Regions from separate parts of the Homo sapiens genome. Here all the other regions are linked to region 1. The links come from fine-mapping of genetic effects on gene expression. A gene starts in region 1. Each other region holds a variant in brackets. All regions are shown on one strand. Distances are from middle to middle. Region 1 holds the start of ERICH1 (glutamate rich 1). Region 2 has its middle 80 kb from the start of ERICH1. Region 3 overlaps ERICH1 (glutamate rich 1). Region 4 has its middle 66 kb from the start of TDRP. Region 5 overlaps ERICH1 (glutamate rich 1). Region 6 overlaps ERICH1 (glutamate rich 1).

Region 1 (4,000 bases):
GGTCCTCCTCTTGCTTCATCCACATCATTGGAGACCAGTGGTTCGTTCTTTGACTTGGCTTCAGGACCTTCCTTTTCTCCCTGGCCACCCTTCATGTACCACAGCTTGGGCCCCCTCATCTCCCCACCTCTCAAAGGCCAGAGCCCCTCGGGGCTTATTCCTTGGACCACTTTCTAAAGTTCACGCCTGCTCCCTTCATGACCTCATATGCTTACTCATCTTATGAGCACCTCAAACTTGACCTGTCTAAAACTGCACACTACCACCAAACGAAGATCCCCAGAAGGCTCTCCACCTCCTCAGTGCAACTCCAGCCTTCCAGTTTCCAAACGAAAAATTTACAGCCATTCTACATTTCTCCTTTTCTGTCACAGCCCAGTTTGATCAATCGGAAAATCTCTTTGGCTTTACCTTAAAACATGTCCACAATCCAACTAGCCCCCCCACCCAGAACCTCCAGTGCCACCACTTGGATGTGAGCTGTCAGCATCTCTTATTGCAGCAGATGAAATCTCCACACTTCCTTCCATGCAACTCTAGTCATCACAACGCTAAATGACTTCTTTAAAATGTACATCAGGCCATGCACAGTGGCTCATGCATGTAATCCCACACATTGGGAGGCTGAGGTGGGAGGATTGCTGGAGGCCAGGAGCTGGAGGCTGTAGTGAGCTGTGATGGCACCACTGCACTCCAGCCTGGGCCAGAGTGAGACCCTGTCTACCCCAAAAAGAAAGAAAATGCATCAGATCATTTCACCCCTTTGCTCTACATCGTGTAACAACTTTCCACCCTGCTTCTTGGAACATGCAAAGTTATCAGGCTCCCTGCAGACCCTGCCTGGGTCTGGGTCTCCTTTCCTCCTGATCTGAGCTCCCCTTATCCTGCCCTTGCTTCTGGTCCCCAAACTCAAACAGGGCAGCCGTTCTCCTGGGACATCGTTTCCCTCCTGTGGGCTCTCTTTCCCTGGGCACCCCCAGTCTTGCTCCCTCACCTACCTCAAGCCCGCGCCCATCACTCTACAGTTAGGCCCTACCAGCTTCATTTTCCTCCAAAACACCCATCTCCGTGGGTTCCTCTCCTGAGACAGCCCACATGAGGAACAGCGCCTGGCACACACCTGGGAAATGTTTTGGAAGAAACGAATTCAAGGAGGAGGGTCCTGAGGGGGTGGAGCGGGAGGGCAGAGGCCCTTGGAGCTGGACAGGGAGACAAGAAGGGGTCTGGCAAGCCGGGGTGACGTGGGGGCCGCTGCCCTGACCACTCCCTGTGTCCCACAGGTGCCTGGGGGCCAGGGACACCGCCCTGGCCATGCCCTGTGTCCAGCAGGTGCCTGGGGGTTGGGGTCACCGCCCTGGCCACTCATGTGTCCAGCAGGTGTCTGGGGACCGGCTGGCCATTCCCTGTATCCTGTAGGTGCCTGGGGGCCAGGGACACCGCCCTGGCCATTCCTTGTATCCTGCAGGTGCCTGGGGGCCGGGGACACCGCCCTGCCCACTCCTTGTATCCAGCAGGTGCCTAGGGGCTAGGGGTCACCGCCCTGGCCACTCCCTATATCCTCCAGGTGCCTGGGGGCTGGGGTCACAGCCAGGGCCACTATCCGTGTCTCGCAGGTGCCCGGGGACCGGGGACACCGCCCTAGCCACTCCCTGTATCCTGCAGGTGCCTTGGGGCCGGGGGCACTGCCCTGGCCATTCCCTGTGTCCGGCGGGTGCCTGGGGGCGAAGCGGGGACTGGGGATCCGCAGGTGCACCCGTGGGGTTGGGGGTGGGCGCCTCTCCTCTGGGGCCCTCCGTTCCCCTCTTCTCCACAACGCCCTCCCTAGCGTTCGCCCCCAGAGTTCCGCCACCGCGTAGAGCAGTCGCCGCCAGCGCTCTCACAGCGTCCTCAGGTCCCCAAGAGCCCGCACCGCCGCCCCCGCAGCCCTCCCTCCGCGCATGCTCCACAGCGGGGCTCCCAGAGGCGGGTCTGGAGCCTCGCGACACGCCTACAGACTCGATATCAGCCAATCTACGGCCGTGATGTAGTTGACTGACCGCCCGTGGCGGGGTCCCGTATTCGGATTGGGCATTCCTGCTGTTGTGGGCGGACCCAGGAGGGCGGAACCCGGAAGGCACGGCGCTCAGCTCAGGACCGCGCGCCGTGGTCTGAGGTCCGCGGCAGGGTCCCGCATGGCGGCGCACAGGAAGCACGGTAGGTGGGTGCGGTGCGGAGGCCTGCCCAGACCCCAGACCCGGCTCTCGGCTCAGACCGCGGTGTTGACTCGGGACCCCGACCCCGGCCCCTTTCCAGGCCCCACCCCAAACCCAGACCGACTCCCCACCTCCACCCCAGTCCCTACCCATCCCCCGCTCTTACCCCGGACCGCGGCCCACCCCTCGCCCGTGTTGTTGCTTGCATGGCTGCTGGTCGGGCCGGCCCTGCCAGGCCCCACCTGGTGTCTGGGGTCCTGGGCGGAGGCGAGCCCAGCCAGGGATTCGTGTTCTTAGCAGAGCCCCTGTTGGTGAGTGAGTAGGAGCCGCTCAGCTCTTCAGAGGGGTCCTAGCCCAGGGCTCCGGGGTGGGGCTGCAGCCGGCTCCGGCAGCCTCACCGAAAAGTACAGCAGAACCTCCCAGAGCCACTGTGTCCTCATCTGAGAGACGGAGGTCATGGTGTTTACCTTCAGTGGACCTAAGGTGTGGGGCGCATCCTAGTGCTTATTAAATTCTGTGATAGCATTAGTACCAAAGACAGGAGGAGAATAAATAGAATTGGTTAACCTGGCCGTGCCTTAGAACGGAAGTGTTAGAAAATAAAGCGTGCTCCTGCTTCCTGCAAACCCCAGCTCATTACCCTCACCGTGTAATCATCATCATAATGAAAAGAGTGGCGGTTTTTGACATGAATCTCGTGTTACTTGGATTAATTCAGGCGCTGATGAATTTTTTTCCTTCTCTATGTTTAAAACTGATAATCATGTTTTTCCCTTTGAAATGAAAAGATAATGGCAAACTATAGTTATAAAACAATTGCTTAAAAAGAAAAAATTTCTCAGTGAGGCAGAATGTGGAGAAAAATATGGTCTCAAGTCTTCCTTTTCAGGGACACACTGCACGTGGGCTTCCCCCTCTCCTTCAGGACCAGGGAATTGTCACCTGATCAGCTCACAGGTTAAAAATGACCTAAGAGTTTTTAAGCAGTCACATGCTAGGCTCTAAAATGGACATTCACGTATGTTAATGAGCACCAGAAATACCTTGTTCATGACCCTCTCCTGGAAGCAGGGCTGGCAGGCTGTGAATTCAGTGTCGAGGTTCTTAGGAGCAGACCTGACGGTCAGCTGCCTGCAAAGCTGTGCCTGCCTTCTTGGTGGGGGGCTTCTTGCTACTGCAGGTTTTCTCCTTGTTTTAAACCACAACACACTCTTCTCTTACATTCCTTCAAATGTTTGCACTCTTCTAAGCCTGGAATAAATGCTCTTCTCTATGCAAGAAATTATTATAGCATCTGTAATGTACCTAATCAACTTAAAAAAAAAACCTTTCTCCATTCACCAAATTAAAGTGAATGAAAGCTGTTAATTGTTTTAGTCATTCACTAATCACCTTCCCTCGAAACAGCCTTTTTTTCCTATTGGATATGTGACAGAATGGTCAAGTAAATTTACGTTGTTTAAGGACATTGTGGTTGGAAGGATAGATTAATAAATCCCAAAAGTTTATAAAATGTAGGTGGGAAAGAAAATATTAGTTTTCTGTGTGTCTTCCTCAAGATCACCTGAAGAGCCCATCGGCTGAGTGGCACTTAGGCTCTGAGAGGCACTGAAGGGAGGATTTAGCTGGAATAAAACTTCCCAGCATTTGTGACCTGATGGAGCAGGAAACTGGAGTGTGTGTCTTCTTCAGAGCATTTCCCTTCTGCGTGGCTTGCAACGAGTGAAGTTAGGGGAAGGTGCCGCAGGAGGAGGGGATGGAGCTTGGCGTGTCCCCTTGCAGGGATGTCTGTTTTCCCAAGGTCCAGC
Region 2 (4,979 bases), 80 kb after region 1:
TGCCACCCTGCGGGATTTGTCCTTCTGTGACCAGCTCATTTCACCCAGCATAACATCCTCAGGGTTTCTCGTGTTATAGCCTGTGTCCAGATTCCCCTGCGCGCATGTGGCAGCCACCAACCATCCTACTTTCTGTCTCTGTGGCTCCAACCCCTCCGGAGACCTCTCCTCAGTGCCACCCTGCGGGATTCGTCCTTCTGTGACCGGCTCATTTCACCCAGCATAACATCCTCAGGGTTCCTCGTGTTATAGCCTGTGTCCAGACTCCCTTCTTTTTTAAGGCTGGATCATATTCCATTTGTTAAAAGAAACACTTCAACTGAATTAAATTTAAAGGAGTTTAATTGAGCAATGAATGATTCATGAATCGGGCAGCGCCAGAATCACAGCAGATTCAGAGAGACTCCAGGGATTCCTCGTGGTCAGAACAAATATATAGACAAAAAAAAGGGGAAGTGATATATAAAACTCGGCAGTGAGGTACAGAACAGCTGGATTGGTTCCAGGTTGGCATTTGCCTTATTGGAACAGTTTGAACACTCGGCAGTCTACGCATGGTTGACGTATGGCTGCTGGGATTGGTCAAGACTCGGCCACTATTACAGGCGCAGACTCCTGAATTAGGTTTTCAGTCCTGTCTGCTATTAAGGTAGGTTATAGTTCGTCCACAAGGACTCAAACATAGACGTCCTGGCATTCTTCTCAGGCCACATTTAGTTCGTGTTAGCACATGGCACTGTGTTTGTCCATTGATCTGTAGATGGACATGGTGCTGTTTTCACCTTTTGGCTGTTAGAATAATGTTACTCTGTACATGGGTGTACAAGCACCTGTTGAGTTCCAGCTTTCAGTTTGGGGGTTTATGCCCAGAAGTGGAAGGGCTGGATCATACGGTAATTAAATCTGGGTTTCATTTTCTGAGGAATTTCTACCCCGTCTTCCACAATGGCTGTACCGTTTTTCATTCCCAGCAACAGCACATGAGTGTGCTCATTCCTCCTCATCCTCTCCAGCACTTATTTCTCGTTTGTAAAAATATATGATAATCATCCTGATGGTTATGAAGCAGCACCTCGTGGTTTTGATTTGCATTTCCTTGCTGATTAGTGGTGCCGGACATCTTTTTGCGTGCGTGTTGACCTTTGTCTATCTTCTTAGGAGAATTTCCATTCCGGTCCCGTGCCTACTTTTGGGTTGTTTTGTTTATCACAGTTTTTATAAACCAGTTCTACATCAGATGAGCTGTGTGCCCCTGGTCTCTCCAAGTAGCTTAAATTCTCTGAGCCTGAGGCATCTCCTAGGAATGAAGACACCCTGTAAGCTCAACACCATTATTCATGCCTAAGACAACTACACCAATTCCCCAGCTTTTGAATGACCATAGGAATTATCAGCAGAACAGGACACTTTGGAAAGTGAATGAGGTGGGATTAATAATTATGCGGAAACAGCAGGTGTGAGCCAGAACCATCCCAGGCAAGCTCGTGGTCACTTTATGTGATATCAACTCCACTCCGTTCCTATCTAGATTTCCCCACTGTCCCCAGCACATCTTTCCAACCAGCAGCCAACAACGGTCGGGCTCTGCATTTGGTTGCGAGCCTGTGTTGTCTCATTTATCTCTGTCCACTGCTTCCCTAAAGGTGGTGACTCTGACGGGGCCAGGCCCCAGTCTTGCTCTTGTAGAACAGCTTCTCCCTCCATCACGTAACCTTTCCTCCTGCTGGCTGCATTTCCTGCCACCGGAAGTAAGGTCTTCAGGCGTCGGATTCAGAGGGCACGTGGGTGCAGGGTGAGTTCAGGGAAGGCGTCGATGGGGTGGCATGGAGCACCAGGGCAATCGCTTGTCTGAAGAGGTGAGTGCAGAGCCGTCGGTGGTAAACCTATGCAGAGATGCCCCAGCGCCCGCAAACGCTCTGCCTCCAGGTCCCCGGATGCCTCAGCAACTGCCAACGGCCTTTTCCCAAATCAGTGCCTTCATTCGGGTTGCAAAATAGTTGATCTTCTAATTTCACCATTCCTGCCACATTTATTACCAAGCATTCTGTGAAAAAGGCTTTTTTCTCATCAAGAGGAAATGAAACACACTTTCTCTTAAGCAAGGGGGAACTGCTGAAGTCAGTCCCTTTCCTCACCGATTTCCGAGTAGAGTTGACAATGATGTCAGAGTGGCTGCCGAAGGGAAACCAGATGCCCTCCCCTCCCGCTCCGTCTCAGCCTCTCTCTCCCCTCAGTCTTCTCCCCCCTCCCACTCCGTCTCAGCCTCTCTCTCCCCTCAGTCTTCTCCCCCACCCTGCCCGTCTCCCTCGC[T/G]CTCTGCCTCTCCTGTCCCTGCCCACCAGCTCTCTCTCTGGCTTACCTGTTTCCCCTGCCCCCAGCTCTCCGTCTCTCTCCCTAATCCCCCTTCCCACTTCGTGGACTCCCAGGTTCTTCTTTGGGCAGTGGGAGCCTCTCCGGGCTGGCTCCTGCATTTTCTCCACCTGCCCCATTGCCAAGGGCACTTTCTTGCTCTGAAGGCCCTGAAGCCCCAGGCTTACCGGAAACTTTCTGTGCCCCGGAGCTGGGATCAGCTGCTTCTCCAAGGAGCCCTGGGATGATATTTGTAAAGATAGATTGCAAAATTAGAATTAGTATTTTCAGAATCCCTTCCCCTCTTTTCCCACTCCCACCCAACCCAGTGTCACAGTGTCAGGCAGGTTCGGGAGATGAGGACGCCTAAGCCCAGCGCCACTTCTCTTCCCAACCCTGGACTAACAACTTGAGCTGAACCAGATGTGAACTGAAGCCCAAAACAACTGACATTGACTTGCAGTGTCTAATTCAACTTAACTGAAATGCAGTATCAATGTTGGCCTGAATCAAGCCATGGCAAGATGTGTGATAAGCCAGGGACTGTGGCTCCCCAACAACGCATCTTCCTTAAACCACTGAACCCCTGCAAGACTAGAGCTCTATCGTGGACGAACGAGGGGTGTTCTGCCTGGCTTCGGTGATTCGTATCTGCTGTCATTTGTAAACTGTTTATACACCGCCTTGGTGACAGGACCCCAGATCTATTTCTCAGTCACACTCAAGGAGCTCTCCTGGGATAACACACTCCAGGGCTCTCAGTCGGACCTTTCACCATGAATCGTTGAAGCCTCCTGCGGTGGCTGCAGCCCCTTGCTCTGGCTTTATCAGGTCAGGTCTCGGCTCTGCAGGCCTCGGAGCCCACAACAGAAGAGACCCTTTTATCAGCGTGTGCTGCGGGGTGGCTGCACCCTCTTCAGGGTCAGGGTGGCCTGAACTTGCGTCCTGCGCCTCATGTCCTCCTTCTCTCCTGCCCTATGGCACGGTGCCGGCTCTGGAATCTGAGCGCGTTGACACCGGTTCCTCCCTGGTCAGGCTGGCTGCTTCCCTTTCAGTGTCTGGGGCCGGCCTCGGGGGTACCTGCAGCCACCGGGGCGGCTGCTGCTGGGAGGTCAAGCCCATTTCGTCCTCACGTTAGGATGTGACAGTGCCCTGCCGAGGACGGTAACTGAGATGGAAAACGAGTTAAGGCGACAAGGGCTGCCCTTTCAGTGGGTGGCATCCGTGAGGCAGATGTCAGCCCCCAGGGCAGGAAAAAGGAAAGCCCGTTCTGCCTGCATCCTCTCCTGAGACCGTGTCACTAAAGTTGGAACGGGGAGACCCAGCGAGGACAGGGGCCACGGAGTCAGACCCCGGGGACAGAGTGCTGACTCGGCCTGGCGGAGGCCGGCGTCCTCATCGCCAGCACGGAACGGGACGCAGCTCCTGAGTGCAGAGAGGAACGCGGGCTCCACGCTGTGCCGGACACGCAAGCGCCCTCAGCTCTGCGCGCTCCCGGCATGGAGCGAGCGCTGAGACCGCAACCTTCCGGCCTTGTTCTTCTGAACCGGCACGAAAGCCGAGAGCAGGACACGCAGGTCGCGCTCAGCGCAGGGAGGCCGCCCTCGCCGGGCGCGGTCCGGGGTGCTCAGGCTCTGCAGCCCCAGGTGCCAGATGTCGCGGCTGCCGTCTTCTCCCTGACGCCAGCACACGCTTCCCCAGGCCCGGTCCTGTCACGTCTCCTCCCAACCTGGGGCCACTGCTCCTCCCAGCCCTGACAGCGATTCCTGGAAAGCTCTTGCTGGAGCCCAGCTGTCAGCTCACCTGCTCTGATACGCCGTCCGCCCTGTGCGGCTGCTCTGTCTCCACGTGGATGGATGGTGCCTGCGCTCATGGTCACACTGCTCAGCCAGGGGCCACAGGGCCTTGGAGCCCCGTCTTCCAGCTCCTGCCTCCTGGAGGCAGTGCTTCATGATCTGAGCCCACCTTCCTGCAGGAAGGGCTCACAGCAGCCGGCGCGGCCCCACCCCAATCCCCCTCCCCCGAGAGAGGTACGGTGCTGGACATCCAACAAAGGTGACAACAGGGCTCACCTCTCCCCTGTGGATCTTCCCCCCGGGGCCCAGGGGCTCTGAGCATTTCCACAATGCACAGGATACACCCACCCTGGAATTCTCTGTGCTTGACCTTGAGGACAGCATAGAATAAAAGCAAGCCCCGCTCTTAGCCGAGAAGCCAGTTTAACCACACTGTGAGCGTAAAAGCCCTTCTGCAAACTCTATTCTTGTTGTTTTCAGGGTGAAATGCAAAGAAATAGGTATGTGTTATTTTAGCTAAATATTTGTTTATTCTAAAGACAGCTGCACTGGCACAGATATGCCATCTCTTACTCTCCCTGGATGCTGGTAGATGCTGGTGGACAGGAGGAAAGCCTGGCCTCACAGTTTCCTGCCCCCCATGTCTAAATTCATCCAGGTAATAAAGTGCGTCTGTGTCTGTACAGGCAGTAACTCAGATCAGCCCTTCCACAGTGGCACACAGTTCCACAGAAAATCCTGTTATCAATAATAGCATTTGAATGAATTTGGGAAATCACCCTGCTGAGCTTAACATATTTGCACTAGTATGCAAATATCCCTGAACACACCCACTGG
Region 3 (4,979 bases), 42 kb after region 1:
CGTTGATCTTTTTTAAGGTGCACAAGAGGAATTTAGAGTTTTCAAATAAAAGTTGTACCTAGATGATTTGTAACAATATAAACTAAGAAACTCTATATTATAAACATTAATTAATTTGAATATCAACAAAATGTGGTTTTTGACTGCTTTTGTCTTTCTGGCTTCCTAAATTAAAGGATCAGAAACCATAAAAACAAAAATGAGATAACTAAGGAATAATGGATTCATCCTTTCAAGCCCTGTTGAAAATCTTTGAAACACAATTATTAGATAGATAGATTATTTAACTAGAAAATGTGCGTTCTTATGAAGATAAATTCCTCTGGGTGAATATGCTTCATTGCGTACTTAATCTGTCCAAGAAGGAAGTGCGTTGGCCCTCACTCACGCCCTTCCTGTTGTCCGCGGTTGGCGCTCTCGCCCCGTTGTACCGCGTTGTCCATGCTGCTCATGTTCCCAGGACAGGCCTGTGCTGGACCCCAGGGTAGAAGGCTCGCTTGGCCATGAGCCAACACTGCTTCCCAGACAGGCTGTGTCAGGACTGAGCTACAGCAGTGTTCTTACAGGAAGTGGAAAGATACTTGCACCACATAGACAGGCATTTCTCTTCACAAGCTGCTTCTTGAGGACACGTGTCCAGGAGCCCTTGAGGAGTCACTCCTTTCCTGTTGCCCGGGCCCCCTTGCCACCTTCTCCAGGCGCCAGTGACTTGAAATGGTAAAGTTGGGAAAAAGACAGCAAAGCCCACCCTCTAATTGTGTTTCCTACCTTTGTTCTTCAAAATGAAAGAGAAAATGCCCAGAGCAAGCCCCAAGCACAGCCTTGCAGCTGCAGAGCCGATGGAGCCTCCAGGGCCCTCAGGAGCCAGAGGCCAGGAGAAGCAAGGATGGGACCCCTCTCTCTCTGACCCTCCAAGGTCAGTGTGGGAACACGGCACACAAGAAGGAAGAGCCTTTGAGCTTTTTTGGTTGCAGTTTTAAGCACAGAGGTGAGAACTGGAGCTGGAAAAATAACGGCCAACGTTGTTGTCGTGGTCTCTCTTGGAAGCACTCAGGTCACTGGCTTTCATTTTGAACACGTGGGGCCCACACGTCAACTCCCAGGAAGCTGCAGAGGAAAGTGCTGTTTGTTTTTGCCTTTGCTGTGCCTGGCACCAGGCCCCCTGGGCATTCACACTCAGGACCTTGCGCAGCCCTGCTCTGCGCCGGGGCATCCCCACAGCAACTTGGATCGGCCGCCCAGGGCCTTGTCGCCCAGGCAGGGGTGGCATACCTGGTGCTTAGCCCTCAGTCTGGCCCCTCCTGGCTGCCCGGCCTCTGAGACTTGGTTTCCACCCTCCCGGAGGCCATCTAGGCCCCCGCAGCGGCACTTGCTGCGCCCTTGGGTCTGCCGGTCCCGGTTCCAACAGGCTGAGGGCCTGCCCTTTGTCTTGTCCTGGGTACCTGGCTACTGCCTTGTGATAAATGGAGATTTAGTGCTCACTGACCATATCAATTAGGGCCTGTGTGTATTTTTTATGAAGACAGGCAGACCTGTGCCCAAAAGCCAGGACAGGAAGACCTAAGTACCAGCAGTTTGTCTCAGTCTGTCTTGTCTGTGTTCTTTGGGTAATCTCTGAATGTGACAAGCACAGACTGTGGGTGCTTTTGGGCTCACAGCTTGTCAGGAACAGGTGGAAGGAGACGGGCTGTGGGAAGTCTTGAATGGCATTGTGTTGGATGTGGTTCTGGGACCTCTGCCACCTGGGTTAATGGGTCTTGGCTCTAGACAGAAACATGCACGTACTCCTCCTCTTGTTGACGTGGGGTTGCGTCTTGCTCTCCAGAAGCCAGTAAACCTCTGGCCTGTTAGTGACAGAACAACCCACTATAGATTGTGCCAGAAGAAAGTTGTCCTTTTTGGCAGAGTCTCCATGGAAAATGCTACACAGCCACATTTAGCAGGCGAACTCACTTATCTGGCAGGACGCTCTTCTGCTCACGGTCCTGGCGCGTCGTAGGAACACTGCCCTACATGAATTTACAGAGTCTATTACAGTGATGTGGACATTCCTCTGGGCAGCTGGGATAAGCACGTTGTGCTCAAAATACCGCTTACGTCCGTCTTCTCCTGTGTAGACCGCATTACAGGACTCTGGACCCAGCTGACCACTGTGGGGACGCTGGGCACCTTCCCAGCAGCACGACAGTGTGTCCCTATGCCACGGTGCCGGAAACAAGTCCAGCCATGTAATTTTTAGAAGAAAATGTCCGCAGTGCCCCCAACATGCCTCTTCCCTGGGTTTTCCAGTGGCACACAGTGCTGGCAGCTTGCATGGTGGTGCACCTTCCTGCTCCTGCCAGACACCTCCAGGAGGAGACAAGGGGTGTGGGGGCACCGCCAGCATCTGAAAGCCTCGTTCAGGGAACACAGGAATTGATCAGTCCGTTAGGTTTTGGAAATGCTTACCTTACATCAAGTCAAGATCATAGGTGAGGCCAGGCGCAGTGGCTCACGCCTGTAATTCCAGCACTTTGGGAGGCCAAGGCAGGCAGATCACCTGAGGTCAGGAGTTTGAGAACAGCCTGGCCAACATGGCGAAACCCTGTCTCTACTAAAATATAAAAATTAGCCAGGTGTGGTGGCATGTACCTGTAATCCCAGCTACTC[G/A]AGACGCTGAGGCCTGAGAATCGCTTGAACTGGGGAGGCGGAGGCCGTGGTGAGCCGAGATCATACCACTGCACTCCAGCCTGGGCAACAGAGCGAGAATTCGCCTCAAAAAAAGAAAAAAAAGATCATACGTGAGCTCTTCACCTAGTTTATATGAGTGTACCTCTCTGGGAAAATATCATCTTGGAGTTTCACTTTTCATATTCATCTTTTATTGCAGATTAATCAAAAGACCTGGAGAGTGTTGGCCTTTTTTCCTTGTTTTTGTAAAACTGTCATTTAAAATCTTGTTCCTTATTCATTGTGCAGTCACTAGCAGTTATGTAAAACTCCAGGTGAAAGGTATTCCCTTTAGAGTTCAGCGCTAGAAAAATATTTTGTTCTTATGAACTCGTGTACTTCTTGTTGGATAAGAGAGAGATTTCCCATCGATACCCTTTTTGCTTTTGCCACCAGGAAGCTCAGATTTCAGCTTTTCATTGTTTTTATTCAGTAGCAGTTGTTTCCTTTGACCTCCAGTTTGTGGTAGTTACTACCTTTCCCCACTTCTCTGCTGCTTAACTCATTCTTCTTAGATTCTTAAAATGGCTTGTTTTCTGAGCTACATCTTTTCCTTTTTGCAAGTACACTGAGTAATCAGGGTTTACCAAGTAATTCACTGAATCAAATGCTTTTTAAACGCTTGTGTTGGGCGGTGTGCTCAGGCCTAAGAAAGGGAAGAGCGCCAGGAGGGCCGTGGCGTTGTAGGAGCTGACCCTAGCTGGGGAGGCTCCTTTGTGAGCCTGGCCTACAGAATGGGCGCGGCGCTAAGGAAGGCCGGAGGGAAGCGGAGCCTGGGCGCCTCTGGAGCCTGCGGAGGGACCGGGGGGCGGGGCCGAGGTGGGGCTAAGCGTAGAGCGGGATGGCGCCGAGGTGGGGTGGCCCGGGGCGGGGCGGCGGAAGGGCCGGGGCGGGGCGGGGACGGGCGGAACTGGGGGCGGGGTGCCGCTTTACCTTTTCTGCGAGAACGTCGGGAAACCTGCGTGGGCGGCTCAGGGGCCTTGCCGTGTCCTGCGCCCCGGCTCGCCACGGCCTTGAGGGCGCACTTGCCCCGCCTGGGTTGCAGACCCTCCCTCCTCTCCTGTCTCCCGTGTTTTTGCAGCCGGGAACTGCATTGGGTGCCTGAGGAATTTGACCGCGCGCCGCCGCGCGTCTCCCCCGCCTTTCCAGGGCCTCGGCGGGAGCTGGGGCTGCGGTCGGGGCTCGGGACCCGGGCAGGTCTCTCGGCGCCTTCTCGCCGCCGGGATGTCCTTGGAGCCTCAGACCCTGCTCGGGAAACCTGGGTGCCGTCTCGGCTGGAAGCCTCGGAGGCCTGCGCCGGTTCCGCGCGCTCCGTTCTCGGGGCGGGACCGCTGCATCCGGGGCCTCTCCGCGCCTCGCCCCCGATTCCTCCGTGGCTGCCCCGTATTCCACCTACTACGGCCTCGGCTAGGGCCCCGCGGGCCTGGCGCGCTCCCCCGGGCGCGGCGGGCACTGGCCGCAGTTCTGCCGACTTCAGCCCTGGGTCCGGTCAGCGCTGCGTCCTGCCTCGCCTGGGCCGCCCGGGCGCTCCCCGCGCGCTGCCTTCCTCCTGCTGCGCTCCACAGGGACCCGCCTCCCTCCAGTCCTGCTCCCTGCGCCGCTGCCTCCCTCCACGGGTTCCCGCCTCTCCCCTGCGCCCCCTCAGCGCGTGGTGTTAGCGGGCCCCTTCTCTGCCCATGGGGTGACAGTCTGGACCCACACGCTTAGCGTTTGTTGTGCCAGACCGTCTGGGCTTATTGCAAAGCTTGTGCAAACGTGAGCGTTGCCGGCTTTTTATTCCCCGAGGAGCCTTATCCTGGCGCCTGGTGGAATTAAGTCTTAAGTCAATATTTGGTGAACTGCGTTGAATGATTATGTATAAAAACAGCCCGTAAGGCAAGTGTTAGTGTTTCCCCGGTTCCTAATCACAAGCGGTGTGAGGCATTGACTCAGATTCTGTGCTCAGATCCAGCTACAGAGTCATGAACATAAGTCATTTCTGTGGAGAGCTGTTGTGATGGTGATTCTAGCAGCAAGCACCAGTTGAAATAGTTACTAACTTCACGGCTTCTGGAAGCATGCAGTAAATGCACAGTTATAATGTGGATTCCGTTTGAGTTAAACATCCGTACATGCTCTGTTTTGACAGAATCGTGGCTCTCTCTGCCTTTTGCCTTTCCTGAAGGAGTCCTAGCGTGACTTCTCTTAGCCTTTCCAGAGTGGCTCGTGGGTGGGTGATGGGGCTGCCCCCCGCTCCGCATTCCTCGCATCTCACCCTCTCAAGGGCCTGA
Region 4 (4,979 bases), 120 kb after region 1:
GTGCAAACCTTGTGGGAATCTTTGCTTCTTGGCAAAAGAATGAATAAGTGAATTTGGTCATGGAGAAAATTGCATGCTAGGGGCATGTTTGTAACTACCGTCTGTGTTTGTAGTAAAGCACTCGATAAGTATTTGCCAAAAGAATGACCAATAAATCAATACAGCTCTTAAATTTTTCAAGCCAATTTGACTTTATGCAACTTTTGAAGCTCTTTCACAGATAATGAAACAAAGGCACAAAGAAATTAAGTCATACAAGGGCCTTGGAGAGCTTATTGAGCAAATATTTTGTGTTTTATTTATCAGTTCTGACTAGGATTTTATAATTTACTCCTATAACTTCCATATATTTTCCTTTTCTAATGTATTTTCTAGATTGAGTCTCATGAATATTGAATTTTCATTTTGAAAAATTTGGATCTGTCTACACATATGAAATTCAACCCATTAGGCATTCTTATAATTTAAACAAATGTTCTTACATAAGAAGAGTAATACATTTAAGATATACCTTTGTCACAATTTCTGAACTCTACCTAATGAAAATTCTCTTTCATGTTTGGAATATTTTCCACTTCAAGTGCATTTTATCCACATAATGAGGTTCATAATTCATTCTTTAATATTTTTATTTTGTACATTCTATGTATATTATGCATGCATATGCACAAATACTTTATTGGTCTCCAGATTTTATTCACTGGCATGTCATTTTAAATAAAAATTGGAAAGTAAATGAAAATAAATCTATTTACTTAGCTAAATTAACATTAATACAAGATACAACAAATCTGCAAAGATTTTCTTCATCCACGGAAACGAGGCCCTGAGCATTTTCAAATGTTGAGGCTTTTCAAACTCTGCTAGTTACTGTGTTAGACAGTTGATTCATGTTCAAGTACCTTATACCCTCAGGACTTGCCCTGATATCTTAAATGCAGGCATTGCAATGCATTGCTTTGTTACTCTACATTGTAATTGTCTTTGAGCCCTCCAGTAGGACGTGGGGCTTGGAAAAGACCAAATCTGGCTCAGCCATGCATGCTCCATCGGCGCCAGTACTTTGCTCTTCCTCTTTTAATCATAAGAAATTGAGTTAAAAGAGAAAGAAAATCTATGTATTTTATTTTGTGAGGGAATGCATTTATGCTGCAGCATATAGAGATGGAGGTAGAGAAAGATATAGCGTGCTAGCTCCAATCAAAATGGATCCATTTCAGATGGGAAGGAAGATGTTCTTTAAGGACAGTCACAGGAGCCTCTGGTCAAGAGTTGATCCAGGAATTTAAAATCCTGAGCGTGTCATTTCCTTCCTTTAATGCTCTGGTGCATTCAAAACCAGCTGTTGAGCTCCATGGTACCCGAATCCCTCGCTCTCACCACGATGGCTTGTTGCAAATACAATTCATCCTTTCTTAAATTTATTTAGAGATAGCATCTCGCTCTGACATCCAGGCTGGAGTGCAGTGGCGTCAGCACAGCTCATTGCAGTCTCGACCTCCCAGGCTCAAACAATCCTCCTGCCTCAGCCTCCTGAGTAGCTGGGACTACAGGCGTGCGCCACCATGCCCACCTAATTTTTGTATTTTCGTATTTTTGTAGAGACAGAGTCTCCCTATATTGCCCGGCTGGTGTCAGCTCCTAGGCTCAATGGATCCCCTTGCCTCAGCCTCCCAAAGCACTGGGATTACAGGCATGAGCCACTGCACCTGGCACAATTTTCTATAATGAGGTTTTTAATGAGCACTAGCATCCTATGTTATCCATATGCAATAGTATTTATATAACTTTTTGAACATTTGCGATATTACCCATTTTGCTTCTCTAAAAAAATCTTATATTTTAAAAACTTAGTGGAAGATGCAATCTAGCCTGAAATCCTGATACTAGGTTTTAGATATGGTCCTTCTCCTCAGGCAGACCTCACAAACTCCAGCGAGTCTGTGCCAGCCGGGGCGGGAATGCGTCTTACTCGTGTGCGTGCTCCA[G/C]GGTGCTCTGCTGAAAATGTCAGGTCTCAGGAAACACAGCTGTGCAGAAAATCTGAGATTCTCCCCACAGGGTGTTTTGTGCTTGGGCCCTACACAGTAATTATCTGTGACCATTTTGGAAGCATAATTCTGGCAGCAAACTGCATTTTAGAGTGAAGGATGTGGGGTAATTCATAACATGATTTACTCTAGTCTCCATATAGTCACTCTTAAGTCTGAGTTACATAAAAAGAAAGTCTAATAAAATAAATTGCAGTTGAAACATAGTTGAGCTTGGCCCACAAAAAAGAAACGAGCAAAAAATATCATTTGTCTCCGAGGTTGATATGAATGACCCTATTAGACATCTATTTTCTCAAATCTCACTTTGGGACCTTTTATCTCTCAAAATAAGACTCATTTTCCCAAGTCTTTCTGAACCAAACCACGATGGTTTGGTTTCTGAACCAAACTTCCGGAACCGTCGTAGGCAGTGTCTCGAATGTTGTGATGAGGTGATACTCAGTCTTTACAAGTAAGAAAGACAAACTGAGAGACAGCTCTAGATCAGAAGAGAGAATGGCAGCGGCTTTTCAATTTAGGTCACTCTAAAGATAGAAAAACTAATACCCAGGGCTTAAGTGTGGAGTATAATGACACATTGTTCCAAGATAAGTCAGCATATTAACTTCCTTTTAAAAATTCACTGGAAGATAAAATAAATGGAATTGGTTTTCACAGCAGTTAATCAACTCCTCTCCACTGGGCTCTGCACCACCAACATGAAAATCTAACTGCAGTAGCTGAATATATACTTAATTGCAAGGCACTTTATTTTAGGAAATGGAAGCCACGCTTAGCACTTAGTCCACTGGGAAGAAAGAGATAAGTTGTGGTATTTGGTAATTGGGTAATTTTTGGAGAAAGATTTTGCATTATTTTTTAAGCATTTTTCAAACAGATGCTGGTTCTACACAAACCCAAACCATCCAGGAAGTTCGGTAAATCAGACAACTTGTGTTTTGTTGACAGGGACTGACCTCCTCCCTCGCCATCTGCAGAAAAATGTGCTACTAAATATTTATTACACCCCATCAGATATTAAATCATAGTTACATTTAAAAAGACACAAATTTCACAAGGTCCCCGGAGCCCCTTCCAGCTACTCAATGACTCACAGGCTCAGAACATCATGCAGCTCTCGTGCCAGGAGCTCACAAGACAGACCCTGCCTGACTCCCACCCAGCCCAGGATGCTGTTATTGATAAATGCAGCATTGCTGAGGCGATTGAGCTGTTCACTTTATTTGAGGGCTTGCCATCATCCTCGCAAGAGCCCCAGGGGGACGCAGCACGGTCCCTCCTGGCAGGGGAAGTACCCGCTCGTAAGGCAGGGGGCTTGTAGGGATCCGTTCGGGGCACCAGAGATGACGCCGGTACTCCTGCCAGTCAATCAGCCATCAGGATCAATCAGTTCTGGGTTTTCTATTTACTCCCTCCCCTGAGACGTCACCCCATCCATTCATTTTCATACCTTTAAGGGAAGTTGAAGAACTTTAACCTTCACTCAAGACAACGGGATATGATTTAGGGCTAAAAAGAAAAGAACTTTCAAGCCGTGAAAAGACGTGGAAGAATTTAAATGCAGATTACTAAGTGAGAGAAGTAATCTGAAAAGGCTTTTCAATCTGAAAAGGCTGCACACCGTGTGATTCCAGCTACAGGACAGTCCAGAAATGGCAGAACTATGGAGACAGGAAAAAGCTCACTGGTTGCCAGGGCTGGTGAAGAGAGGGCCTGAAGCCACGGAGCACGGATGATTTTCAGAGCAGTGAGACTCTGTGATGCTGTGATGGTGGGTACAGGTCATTACGCATTTATCTAAACCCACATAATTTACAGCCCCAAAAGTGAGTTCTAACTGTTCTAAACGATTGATTTTAGTTAATAATAATTTACCAATATTGGCTCATGAATTGTAACAAGTGCACCGCACTAAGACAAGATATAAATAATAGGGAAAACTGGAGAGAGGAGGTATGAGGAAACTTTGTACTTTCTGCTCAATTTTTATATAAATCTAAACTTCTCTAAAAAATAGTCCCTTTTAAATGCTATATTCAAAAGTATTGCATACAGAGTATGATCTCAATTATATGTGTAAATGTTGGAAAAATACTCCAAAATGTTAATGGCTACCTCTAATGATGGATTATGAATAGTTTTGGTGTTCTTATTTATAGTTTACTGAATTTTCTTATTTTTATGCAATGAAAATATTATTCTTTAATCATTAAAAAAAGTGTTTCATATCACTTTGTTTAAATAAGGCACAATCTCACAAGTATAACTGTACTTCAGGGAAAATAGAAAAGAATTTTGAAATTGTTATTGTTTCAGAAAATCTAGGGACTGTGTTTTCTGTTATTACACAGATCAAGCCACATTCCCCGAGAGACTGACACTAAAATAAGAACGAATGTTGGACAAGTTCATGTGTGTCTCTGGCTGATTCAACGCAGCAGAAGTTATATAAAAGTATTGGTGTACATTAAGACAAGGGTATGAGAAAGCACGTTGCAATTGTTTAAACTCCCCCTGGCAGAATGAGATCCAACGGGAAATGAGAGATGAGGATGCACTTGACTCTCTTAAATTCCACTCCATACTGGAGTGTGTATGTCAGGGATTGAGAGTGAAGCCAGCGTCCTGCCCACCTGCTGGTCCATCTGTAATTTTGCTGATTCTCTATTCATAGAGCAGTGTTCCATGCATTTTCTTTTTGTCAAGGAGCCAGAATTTTGTGAAGGTTAAATAGTTGGTTGGTGTTTCGTTGTTTTGGCTGAGTGGCGAGGGGGTATTAGGGAGAACTGTCTTTTGTTTTTTGCTTTGGGATTCATTATGTCCTTTGGTTTTATCTCCCTCAGAAGGTGTGACATTGGGGCAGAGAGTGGATGCTGCTCCACGCTTCCAAAGACAGGAATTTTGGTGGCTGTGACCTCCTTGTGATTG
Region 5 (4,979 bases), 27 kb after region 1:
TTGTTGTTGTTGTTGTTTTTGAGATGGAGTTTCACTCTTGTTGCCCAGGCTAGAGTACAATGGCATGATCTTGGCTCACCACAACCTCCGCCTCCTGGGTTTAAGCAGTTCTCCAGCCTGAGTAGCTGGGATTACATGCGTGTGCCACCACGTCCGACTAATTTTTTTTGTATTTTTTTAGTAGAGATGGGGTTTCTCCATGTTCGTCAGGCTGGTCTCGAACTCCCGACCTCAGGTGATCCGCCCACCTCAGCCTTCCAAAGTGCTGGGATTACAGGCGTGAGCCACTGCGCCTGGCCTTATCTTTTTTTATATTTTTCCTTCCAGTACTTACAGGACGTAGAAAAGTTTTACCGTTTTTTAAAAAGTGTATTCCAAAGTATTTTATTCTTTTTGGTGCTATTGTAAGTGGAATTGCTTTCTTTTTTGTTTGTTTTCTTTTGGGAATGTTCAGTGTTTGTCTGTGAAAATGCAAGGGATTTTGTGTATTGACCTTGTATCCTGCGGTTTTGCCTAACTAGTTTATTAGCTCTTACATTTTTGTTGTGGATTTCTTAGATTTTCTATGTACAGTCACACATCACTTAACAACGGTAATACATTCCAAAGGAGTCCATTGCTGTGTGAGCAAAGTGCGCTTACACACACTAGACAGTGGATCCAGCTGCAGGCCTGGGCTGTGTGGCACAGCCTGTTGCTCCCAGGCTGCTCGCCCAATCAGTACATGCCTGTGCTGAAGACAGTGGCAACTGTAACACCATGGTGAGTGTTCATGCATCCAAACATTAAGAAGGTGCGGTGAAAATACAGCGTTATCATCTTCAGGGTCCGCCGTCCTATATGCAGCCAGCCTTTCAGCATCCAAACATTAAAAACGTACGGTGAAAGTGCAGTGTTACCATCTTCAGGGTCCGCATTATCTTAAGGCTCCACCGTCCCCCATGCGGCCAGCCTTTCACCAGTGTCTTTTGTGGTACATCACTGTGCAAGATGCTGTCATCTGTGATTTCGGGTAGTTTTACTTTTTCCTTTGTGAGTAAAGATAGTTGTACTTTCCCTGTCCAGTCTGGATGCCCTTTGCTTCCTTTTGTTGTTGTTGTTGTTGACTAATTGCCCTGGCTAGAAGTTCTAATACGATGTTGACAAAAAGTGCCGTGAGTGGGAATCCTGGTCTCATTCCTGATCTTGAGGAGAAAGCATCCCTGTTTTCACCATCCTGTATGATGTTAGCTGTGGGTTTCATACGTGGCCTTTATCATGTTGAAGAAGTTCCCTTCTATGCCCAGTTTATTGATTTTTTTTTAATCATGAACAACATATTTTTGAAGTGCTGTGCCTTGGAAATGTTAAAGGAAAAATGTTATAATTTACTTGCATCTGGAAAAAGAGAAGTCTTGGCCGGGGGTAAAATGATGAAATCACAATAAAAAACGTAAGAACCGTGGGTCACTTCTGCACGGGCCATCGCGCAGTGTCCGTTGAGATGCACGTCCAGGAGGAGTCCTGCTGGATATCAGGGCTGGGCCGAGTGGCGCTCTGTGAGGGACAGGAGGCAGCCGGATGAGGAACAGTGCCCACATCCGTCCTTGGACATGAGACGGAGGAAAATGTTCTTGTACGGTTAGGTCAAAGCATGGTAATTATGGCAATGATTTAGCCAATTGATTGATATTTGTTCACTTCACACGATCTGTTTCTTTGGTTCTAGAAGAGTGTTGATAATTCCATTTGTCCCAAAGATAAGACTGATTTGTCAACAACCAAAATAACTGGTGTATGTGCATTTTGGTAAACTTTTTTCACTGAAGAGCCCATATTGAACTTTTTTTTAAATTTGTCAGTTATGTGTTGCATATATTTTAGATTCAAATAATTCTCAGGAATTATTATTAAAAACAGCAATGTTCTGCCCATCACTCCAGTCACACACCCTCCAGCTCTGCAGTGGCTGCTCCTGGGTAAAACCACCCCCCCTTTCAGAGTCACGCACTTAC[A/C]CTGTTGCTTCCTGTTTTCTTCTTCTTTTTCTTTCTTTTTTGGCAGGGAGGGAAGGGATTAAATCTTATGTATTGACTTTGGAAACTAAGGATTTTGGTTTTTTTTAGCAGCTTCCCCCACCATGGATGCACATTTTTTACAACCCCCGTCCTTCCAATATGATTTTTTCAAAATGTTTGTACATCAGTATTGTTTACATGTTTATGTCTCCGTAAACACCGTTTCTTGCTGAGTCACATAACACACGATTATTCCGTTTTGTGAAACCTTTAGTGGAGTGAGCAGAGCTTTAGTAGAGTTAATAGTTTTCTTGGATTTTTACATTTTCTTCTAAATACTTAATAGTACTAATTTCTCCCCTCACCTCCCTGTCCTTGTTCTATGGTCAGACACATTCAGGGTCAATGAGCTTCATCTTCCGTGGCCTCTTCCAGACTGTTCCACCCCCAGCATGGGCCGCCCCCAAGTCCTTGCCGTAACTCCCGGTCTCACCTCTCCCGGGGGCTTCCTTTGCTGTCCTGGGCCTCAGTCTTTTCATTTCTTGGGTTTGCTTCCATTTTGTTGAAATGCGTTCGTTAGTAACTTCCTGAAAAATGGTTTTTGGGAGATAAATATTTTAGAGATCTTGAAGGTCAAGTATACCTTAATTCTTGTACTTAAAAGTTTTTCGGGGTGTAGGATTCTGGGCTAATAACTGTCTTTCACACTGGAAGTCTTTAACATCCAGTGTCGCTGTGAGAAGGCAGTTGCCATCATTCTCGATTCCTGTGGCTATGAGCAGTTTTCCTCCCTTAGGACAGTTTGAGGTTCTGCTTCTGGCCTTCATGTGGGTGCAGCCTGATGCTGAGGTCTTGAGCATGGTCTGTTTTCATCTGTCGTGGCCTCCGTAGTCTGGGAACATGTGCCACTCTCTTGTTTCCTTGATCGTTTCCTCCTCTTTGCTTTCAATCTTCGGTTTACAGAATTCCTGTCATTCAGACATTGAGTCTCCCAATAGATCCCCTTTTTCTTACATCTTCTCCCGGATTTTTTATGGTTTAGTGATTTGAGACCACTTTCTGGGAGATTTTCTCAAATTTCATCTTCCACCCTTCCGGCTGCACCCTTCGTTTTTGTCACTGCGTCTCAGAGTTGGAGCGGGAAGGAGGAGAAGAAGGGTCTCTCACACTCTCTATGGACAGGCTCTCCCTCCCTGTTTATCTTATGGAGTCTTTGCCTTCAGTTATGGTGCCTGGGGCTCCTGGGAGCCAGGCCTGGCCTTTGCAGAGAGTGAGTCCCGGTCTCCCACGGGTGGTGGGGAGGCTTCCACAGCCTGCCTGCCCCCCTTTTTCTCCCCACTTCCAGGCTCCTTGGCGGCCCCTCTGGAGCAGATCTCGTGTCTGCTGTGTCTCGGCTGCCATTCTAGGATTCAGCATCCCGTCTACTTTTCACTTTCCAACACTGTATTTTTTTCATCTGTCCTTCATTTGTCCTCTGTGTGTTGCAAACCCACTTATTCTCATTTTGGTGGGGCCTTAGGAGGAGGATGGGGTGTGTGCACTTGGTCTGTCCTGCACCTTCATCTGTATCTTACTGACGTGCCATTAACAGATAGGATGGGTTCATTTCTGTGCATTTGGCTGTGCTGAACTGCATTTCCCACAGTTCCCTCCCCGAATGCTCCTGGTTACAGGGGGACACGAGAGGCCCTTCTGCCTGAAATTCGGAAGGTGGACGTAAGCCCTTTTAGTTTCCAGCTCCTGGAGGTGAAAGCTCACGCAGCTCATGTGCATTGTTGCAGACTTGCTGCCTGCCTGGGTGGTGTGGGCAGTTCTGGGCCTCCGGCTCTCTGCAGCTTCTTGGGCCCTCCTTCAGCTAACCCCAGGCGTGCGGGGTACCTGTCCTGGGTAGGACACCCACTGCTACCCTCAGCAGCAAGGACGGAGACAGGCTTCCATCTGGTTCCCGGGGCATCCAGCTCTCGCTCCTGCCTTCTGGCTTCCGCCCTGCCCCTCTGCGTCCATCACCAAGGCTGTGCTGGCCGAAAGGGTCCACTTTGGCGGGTCTTGGCAGTTAGCTGAGGGCACCAGTGTCGCTCCCACACAACATGCAAACCCTCCTGCCGAGCTGCGACCTTCGCCTGTCACGGAACCTGGTGCTGAGTGTGGTGAGAGTGAATCCTGCAGCACGTGGCGCACTGTCGGCCTCTTTCATGTTTAGCTTTTGATTGTGCTTATTGTCCATTTGTATTTCTTCTTCTAAGTGTCTGTTCAAGACTTTTCCGTCTTGGCTGGAGGTGGGAGGTGCCTGCTCCTGTGTTTTCTGGCATCTTTCTCTGCTGTCTTTGTGTGTCTGCACTCAGGGAGTTTCCCTGGGGTGTGTGCCTAGAGAGGTGCTGGTTGTACATTTCAACGTAGGGACAGATTCCCAGCGTGTCTTTAAAGGAGCTGTGCCGCTGTGTGCTCACTTGACTCGCCGGCGTTCTTGTTTCTCCAGGCCCCGGTTAATACAGAGTGTTTGCAGTCTCGCTAATTGAGTGTGAGGTTTCTGTTTCTTATTCAATGCACGCTACCAAGCTAACAAAACTGGACAGCCTTTCACGCCTCCTGGCCATCTGCCTTTGCCCGTGTTTCTGCGGAGCTTGTCTTACCAATTTCCGGGGTTCTTTAGATGCTTCAAAGCCCAGCAAACACCTTCTCTCAGTGGATTGCCTTTCCTTTTTTTTTTTTTTTTTTTTTTTGAGATGTAGTCCCGCTCTGTCACCGAGGCTGGAGTGCAGTGGTGCAATCTTGGCTCACTGCAAGCTCCGCCTCCCAGGTTCAAGCGATTCTCATGCCTCAGCCTCCCGAGTAGCGCCCGCCACCATGCCTGGCTAATTTTTGTATTTTTAGTAGAGACGAGGTTTCACCATGTTGGTCAGGCTGGTCTTGAACTCCTGACCTCTTGATCTGCTTGCCTCAGCCTCCCAAAGTGCTGGGATTACATGCGTGAGCAACCGCGCCTGG
Region 6 (4,979 bases), 59 kb after region 1:
GCAGAGGTTGCAGTGAGCCGAGATTGTTCCACTGCACTCCAGCCTGTGCAGCAAAGTAAGAGTCTGTGTCAGGAAAAAAAAAAAAAAAAAAAAAGCAACAACTTGTACATCCTTCAAAACACACCATATATTATGATTGTCGCATCTGTGAGTGTATGTACTGCTAATTTATATTACGTTAGTCCTAGGATCTTTGATGGTAAAGTTGAGAATCACCGAAGTAAATAGTGTAAACTCTTTTTCTACTAAAACTACAAGATCCTGATGGAAAATTTATTTAGCCTAATATGTTTGTTATGGTTTCATTGTACTGAAAATTGTTATATTTGAATTTTTTTAACAGATCAGGATCCTCATGACCAGCCAAAGAGAAGAAGAATTAGGAAGCATAAATCAAAGAAAAAATTTAAAAATCCCAATAATGTTCTTATAGAACAAGCAGAATTAGAGAAACAGCAGAGTCTGTTACAGGAGAAATCTCAGCGACAGCACACAGATGGCACCACAATAAGCAAAAATAAAAAAAGGAAACTGAAAAAGAAACAGCAAATTAAAAGGAAGAAAGCAGCCGGCTTGGCAGCAAAGGCTGCTGGTGTCAGTTTCATGTACCAGCCCGAGGACAGCAGCAATGAAGGGGAAGGCGTGGGAGAGGCTTGTGAGGAGGATGGTGTGGACACCAGCGAGGAAGACCCGACACTGGCCGGGGAGGAAGACGTTAAAGATACCAGGGAGGAAGATGGTGCGGACGCTAGCGAGGAAGACCTGACACGGGCCAGGCAGGAAGAGGGTGCGGACGCCAGTGAGGAAGATCCGACACCGGCCGGGGAGGAAGACGTTAAAGACGCCAGGGAGGAGGACGGTGTGGACACCATTGAGGAAGACCTGACACGGGCCGGGGAGGAAGACGGTAAAGACACCAGGGAGGAGGACGGTGCGGACGCCAGCGAGGAAGACCCGACATGGGCTGGGGAGGAAGAGGGTGCAGACTCCGGGGAGGAGGACGGTGCAGACGCCAGCGAGGAAGATGATACAATTACCAATGAAAAGGCACACAGTATTCTAAATTTTTTGAAGTCAACACAGGAAATGTATTTTTATGACGGTATGTTTTTTACTGTTTTTCTCTTGCATAGTGACATCCACTTAAAAGTTTATTAAAAGAAACAAATATAATGCTTAAATGTTAAAACATACTTTAAAAATATTCAATGTAAAATAATTAGTTGTAAGGCAACTAATATAAGTAAAAAATATTCAATGTAAATAATTAGTTATAAGGCAAAGATCAGAGTATTTATGTGCTTTCCACCGATGATGTGGATGGGCATGCGCCCCTGGCGTATCCAGAGAAGCAGTGTGGTGGCCCTGGCCAGCTGTGCCAAGGACAGGCTGGCCCCGTGTCCTCCATGCCTCTAAGGTCAGGTTTTGGAGTGTGTTGGCATCCAGGCTATTTTTCTAAACAAGAGATAAATCCAGATTGGAGGTTTTGATGAGCTGAGCTCACCTTCATAAGCAGACTGAGAGGTGAAGGAAACACAGCTTGCGCCTTTAGGACAGGTTTCATTTTCTCTTCCACATAGAACGGATGCACGATTTCTCAGCATGCATTATTGTGCAGTTGTTTGTACTGACATAAGATAAGGAAAATAAACATAGGTTTAATGTCACAGATGGCACTTGCTTACATCTGCACTACGCTTTGTTGACAGCTGACCTAGGGACACGTGGCTGCCCCAGAACAGAGATACTCACCGTGCGCTGGCTTCCTGGCTTTCTTCTCTTTAATTTTTTTTAATACTGTTTAATTTTTGTGGGTATAGGTGTCTTTTCAATGACGTTACCAGCAGGTTCAGGTTAATGTGGTGGGTTTAGCAGATCCAGATTTAAGCAAGGCATTTGATGGTGTTCTTATGAGCAAGATTGAGAAATATCAGCTATGTAATAATTTGGGAAGTAAGTAACTGATTTTAACAAAGATGCAGAAGTACCATTTTTAATAGATTGATTTCAACACGAAGAGCACTCTAGCCTCTTCCTCTTTAGCGTGTTTCTCAGCAGATTGTATTAACAAATTGAAAACATATATCCAGATGGCACATCAGGAAGACATGGCTAAGACACTGCAAAGTAGACGCAGAATTCAGAAAGATCTCAGTAAACTTTCTATTCTGTGTGTGATCGAGCAGCTTGGGGCAGACCAACAGTCATGCCAGGAGTAACCAGAAAGCCAGGATG[G/A]GAAACACCTGTTGAAGGGATCAGGAAGCTACTCAGGAAAACAGCTCATAGAAAGATGGAACTCCTGGAACCCTCACGGGGAGATTATCATGGAAACATCTGCAGCCACTTGTCTTCAGGAATCTGCAAGTCCTGTGTGTGGGCGTTGGGTGAGGGTCTGGGGAAAGGACCTGGTGGAGCCCAGAGAGGCAGAAAAACCAGCCTCACAGGTTGAGAAACCAAAAGCAGAGCCTGGAGCCCAGTGAGCACAGACAGAGCCGGGGCTGGCAGGTTCAGAGGTCGCAGCCTGGAGCCCAGTGAGCACAGACATTAGAGCCGGGGCCGGCAGGTTCAGAGGTCTCAGCCTGGAGCCCAGTGAGCGCAGACATTAGAGCCGGGGCCGGCAGGTTCAGAGGTCTCAGCCTGGAGCCCAGTGAGCGCAGACATTAGAGCCGGGGCGGCAGGTTCAGAGGTCGCAGCCTGGAGCCCAGTGAGCACAGACATTAGGGCCGGGGCCGGCAGGTTCAGAGGTCGGAGCCTGGGGACCAGTGCGCTCAGTGGTCGGAGCAGGGGCCAGCGGGTTCAGAGGTCAGAGCCTGGGGACCAGTGGGCACAGACATTACAGCCAGGGCCGGCAGGTTCAGAGGTCGGAGCCTGGAGCCCAGTGAGCACAGACATTAGAACCGGGGCTGGCACGTTCAGAGGTCGGAGCCTGGGGACCAGTGAGCACAGACATTAGAGCCGGGGCCGGCAGGTTCAGAGGTCTCAGCCTGGAGCCCAGTGAGCACAGACATTAGAGCCGGGGCCGGCAGGTTCAGAGGTCTCAGCCTGGAGCCCAGTGAGCGCAGACATTAGAGCCGGGGCCGGCAGGTTCAGAGGTCGGAGCCTGGGGACCAGCGCGCTCAGTGGTCGGAGCAGGGGCCAGCGGGTTCAGAGGTCAGAGCCTGGGGACCAGTGGGCACAGACATTACAGCCAGGGCCGGCAGGTTCAGAGGTCGGAGCCTGGAGCCCAGTGAGCACAGACATTAGAACCGGGGCTGGCACGTTCAGAGGTCGGAGCCTGGGGACCAGTGAGCACAGACATTAGAGCCGGGGCTGGCAGGTTCAGAGGTCGGAGCCTGGGGACCGGTGGGCTCAGGTGTTGGAGCAGGGGCCGGCAGGTTCAGAGGTCGGAGCCTGGGGACCAGTGGGCTCAGGTGTTGGAGCTGGGGCTGGCAGGTGCAGAGGTTGGAGCCTGGGGGACCGGTGGGCTCAGAGGTTGGAGCAGGGGCCGGCGGGTTCAGAGGTTGGATCCTGGGGACCGGTGGGCTCAGAGGTCGAAGCAGGGGCCAGTGGGTTCAGAGGTCAGAGCCTGGGGACCAGTAAGCTCAGATGTTGGACCTGGGGCCAGGGGGTTCAGAGGTTGGAGCTGGGGCCGGTGGACTCAGAGGTCAGAGAACAGAACTCAACACTGCATGGCTTCCCTTAGAACCTTTGCCCAATTCTGAAGCTGTGGGTGGAAGATGAGAAGCCACACAGAGAGCCTCCGAATAACATAGGAGCCTCTTGGCCATCTTGAGGTGCTGATGAGATGAGGATCGGCCTGACCCTCGAGCCCAGCAGAGCAGGGCAGCCCAGAAGCAGATGACACTGTCCCAAATGTGTGGCCACCCTGGAGTCAGCTCAGTCCCTGCACGGTCCAGGGGATCCCCCTCTACTCGGTCTGCCTGGCGGAGCAAAGGGTGAGCCCTCTAGAGGAAAATGTCGCCATCCTAGACCTCTGCAGTCTTTCCTATGCGTTCAGCAACAGTTTACCGGGCATGCCACGAGACAGGACCACAGCACCGAAAACCACGAGAAAAAAAGAGCAGTAGAGCCACAGTGGGAGAGGCCGATGTTATCAGATAAGGAGCCTAAAATAAGGGGAAAAAGGAAAAATTGGAGCATTTCGCCAGGTAATTTGAATCTACTAAAATAATCAAATGGAAATTTTAGGCCTGAGAAATATAGTAACTAAAATTCAGGCCTCAAAAGACAGGGAAACAGCAAATGAGAGTTGGTATAAAAGAGAATTAGTGACCAGGAAGACAGGTGAAAGAAAGTCCCCAGAATGCAGAGTGGAGAGAAAACGGGTGGAAAACACAGGAAAGAGCCCGGCAGACATGGAGTGGGAAGTTGTGTCCCTGAAACAGGCCCAGGTGGAGAGGAGAGAGGACGGAGCGGGGGCAGGACGGAGATGTGACATTTGGGAGTTTTACACCATTGTTACAGGACACAGAGTCACAGGTTGAAGAAGTCCTGCCAAGTCCAAGCAGGGTTAACGCCGAAACCACCAGAGGCAAGTGAATTGCAGTCATACTGCTGAACAGCAGCCAGAGAAACAAGACCAGCAGCCAGATCCAGGGGAAGTCGGGGGCTTGTTTTCAGTTCTCCTTGATTTCTTCTAAACAGCCACAGTCTGATTCTTTTTTTAAGCGATGTGATGTGGACATAGAGAGCTTGCTTTCATTGTCTGGTTTAACCTGCTGCTGTTCGTAGCCCTGAGTCGTGTGTTGGACAGGGAAGGCGTCTCACCAGACAGAGGTGTAGACGGGCCAGGGGAGGCGTCCCACCAGACAGACGTGTAGACGGGCCAGGGGAGGCGTCCCACCAGACAGACGTGTAGACGGGCCAGGGGAGGCGTCCCACCAGACAGACGTGTAGACGGGCCAGGGGAGGCGTCCCACCAGACAGACGTGTAGACGGGCCAGGGGAGGCGTCCCACCAGACAGACGTGTAGACGGGCC

The links.
Region 2: its variant is fine-mapped to the expression of ERICH1 in whole blood (TOPMed, PIP above 0.99).
Region 3: its variant is fine-mapped to the expression of ERICH1 in cerebellar hemisphere (GTEx, PIP above 0.99).
Region 4: its variant is fine-mapped to the expression of ERICH1 in prefrontal cortex (CommonMind, PIP 0.94).
Region 5: its variant is fine-mapped to the expression of ERICH1 in whole blood (INTERVAL, PIP above 0.99). The same link has a PIP of 0.9 or more in neutrophils.
Region 6: its variant is fine-mapped to the expression of ERICH1 in esophagus mucosa (GTEx, PIP 0.99). The same link has a PIP of 0.9 or more in lung and unexposed skin.

The regions. Positions count from the first base shown.
Region 1 is chr8:729,333-733,332 of GRCh38, reverse strand. It overlaps ERICH1 (glutamate rich 1), which reads left to right and starts at 2,109. Exons shown (of 6, transcript NM_207332.3): 1 at 2,109-2,193. The coding sequence starts at 2,172.
Region 2 is chr8:648,989-653,967 of GRCh38, reverse strand. It overlaps a transcript of ERICH1 not described here. Among named protein-coding and RNA genes, the nearest start is that of ERICH1, 80 kb to the left of the region's middle. RefSeq lists enhancers at 1,322-1,821, 1,822-2,323. The variant T/G (reference allele first, on the strand shown) is at 2,311.
Region 3 is chr8:686,907-691,885 of GRCh38, reverse strand. The region is part of intron 3 of ERICH1 (glutamate rich 1); the gene reads left to right. Among named protein-coding and RNA genes, the nearest start is that of ERICH1, 42 kb to the left of the region's middle. RefSeq lists a silencer at 3,714-3,973 and an enhancer at 3,553-4,207. The variant G/A (reference allele first, on the strand shown) is at 2,650.
Region 4 is chr8:608,555-613,533 of GRCh38, reverse strand. No RefSeq gene overlaps it. Among named protein-coding and RNA genes, the nearest start is that of TDRP, 66 kb to the right of the region's middle. RefSeq lists an enhancer at 1-222. The variant G/C (reference allele first, on the strand shown) is at 1,989.
Region 5 is chr8:701,812-706,790 of GRCh38, reverse strand. The region is part of intron 2 of ERICH1 (glutamate rich 1); the gene reads left to right. Among named protein-coding and RNA genes, the nearest start is that of ERICH1, 27 kb to the left of the region's middle. The variant A/C (reference allele first, on the strand shown) is at 1,995.
Region 6 is chr8:669,412-674,390 of GRCh38, reverse strand. ERICH1 (glutamate rich 1) reads left to right here. Exons shown (of 6, transcript NM_207332.3): 4 at 344-1,102. Among named protein-coding and RNA genes, the nearest start is that of ERICH1, 59 kb to the left of the region's middle. The variant G/A (reference allele first, on the strand shown) is at 2,236.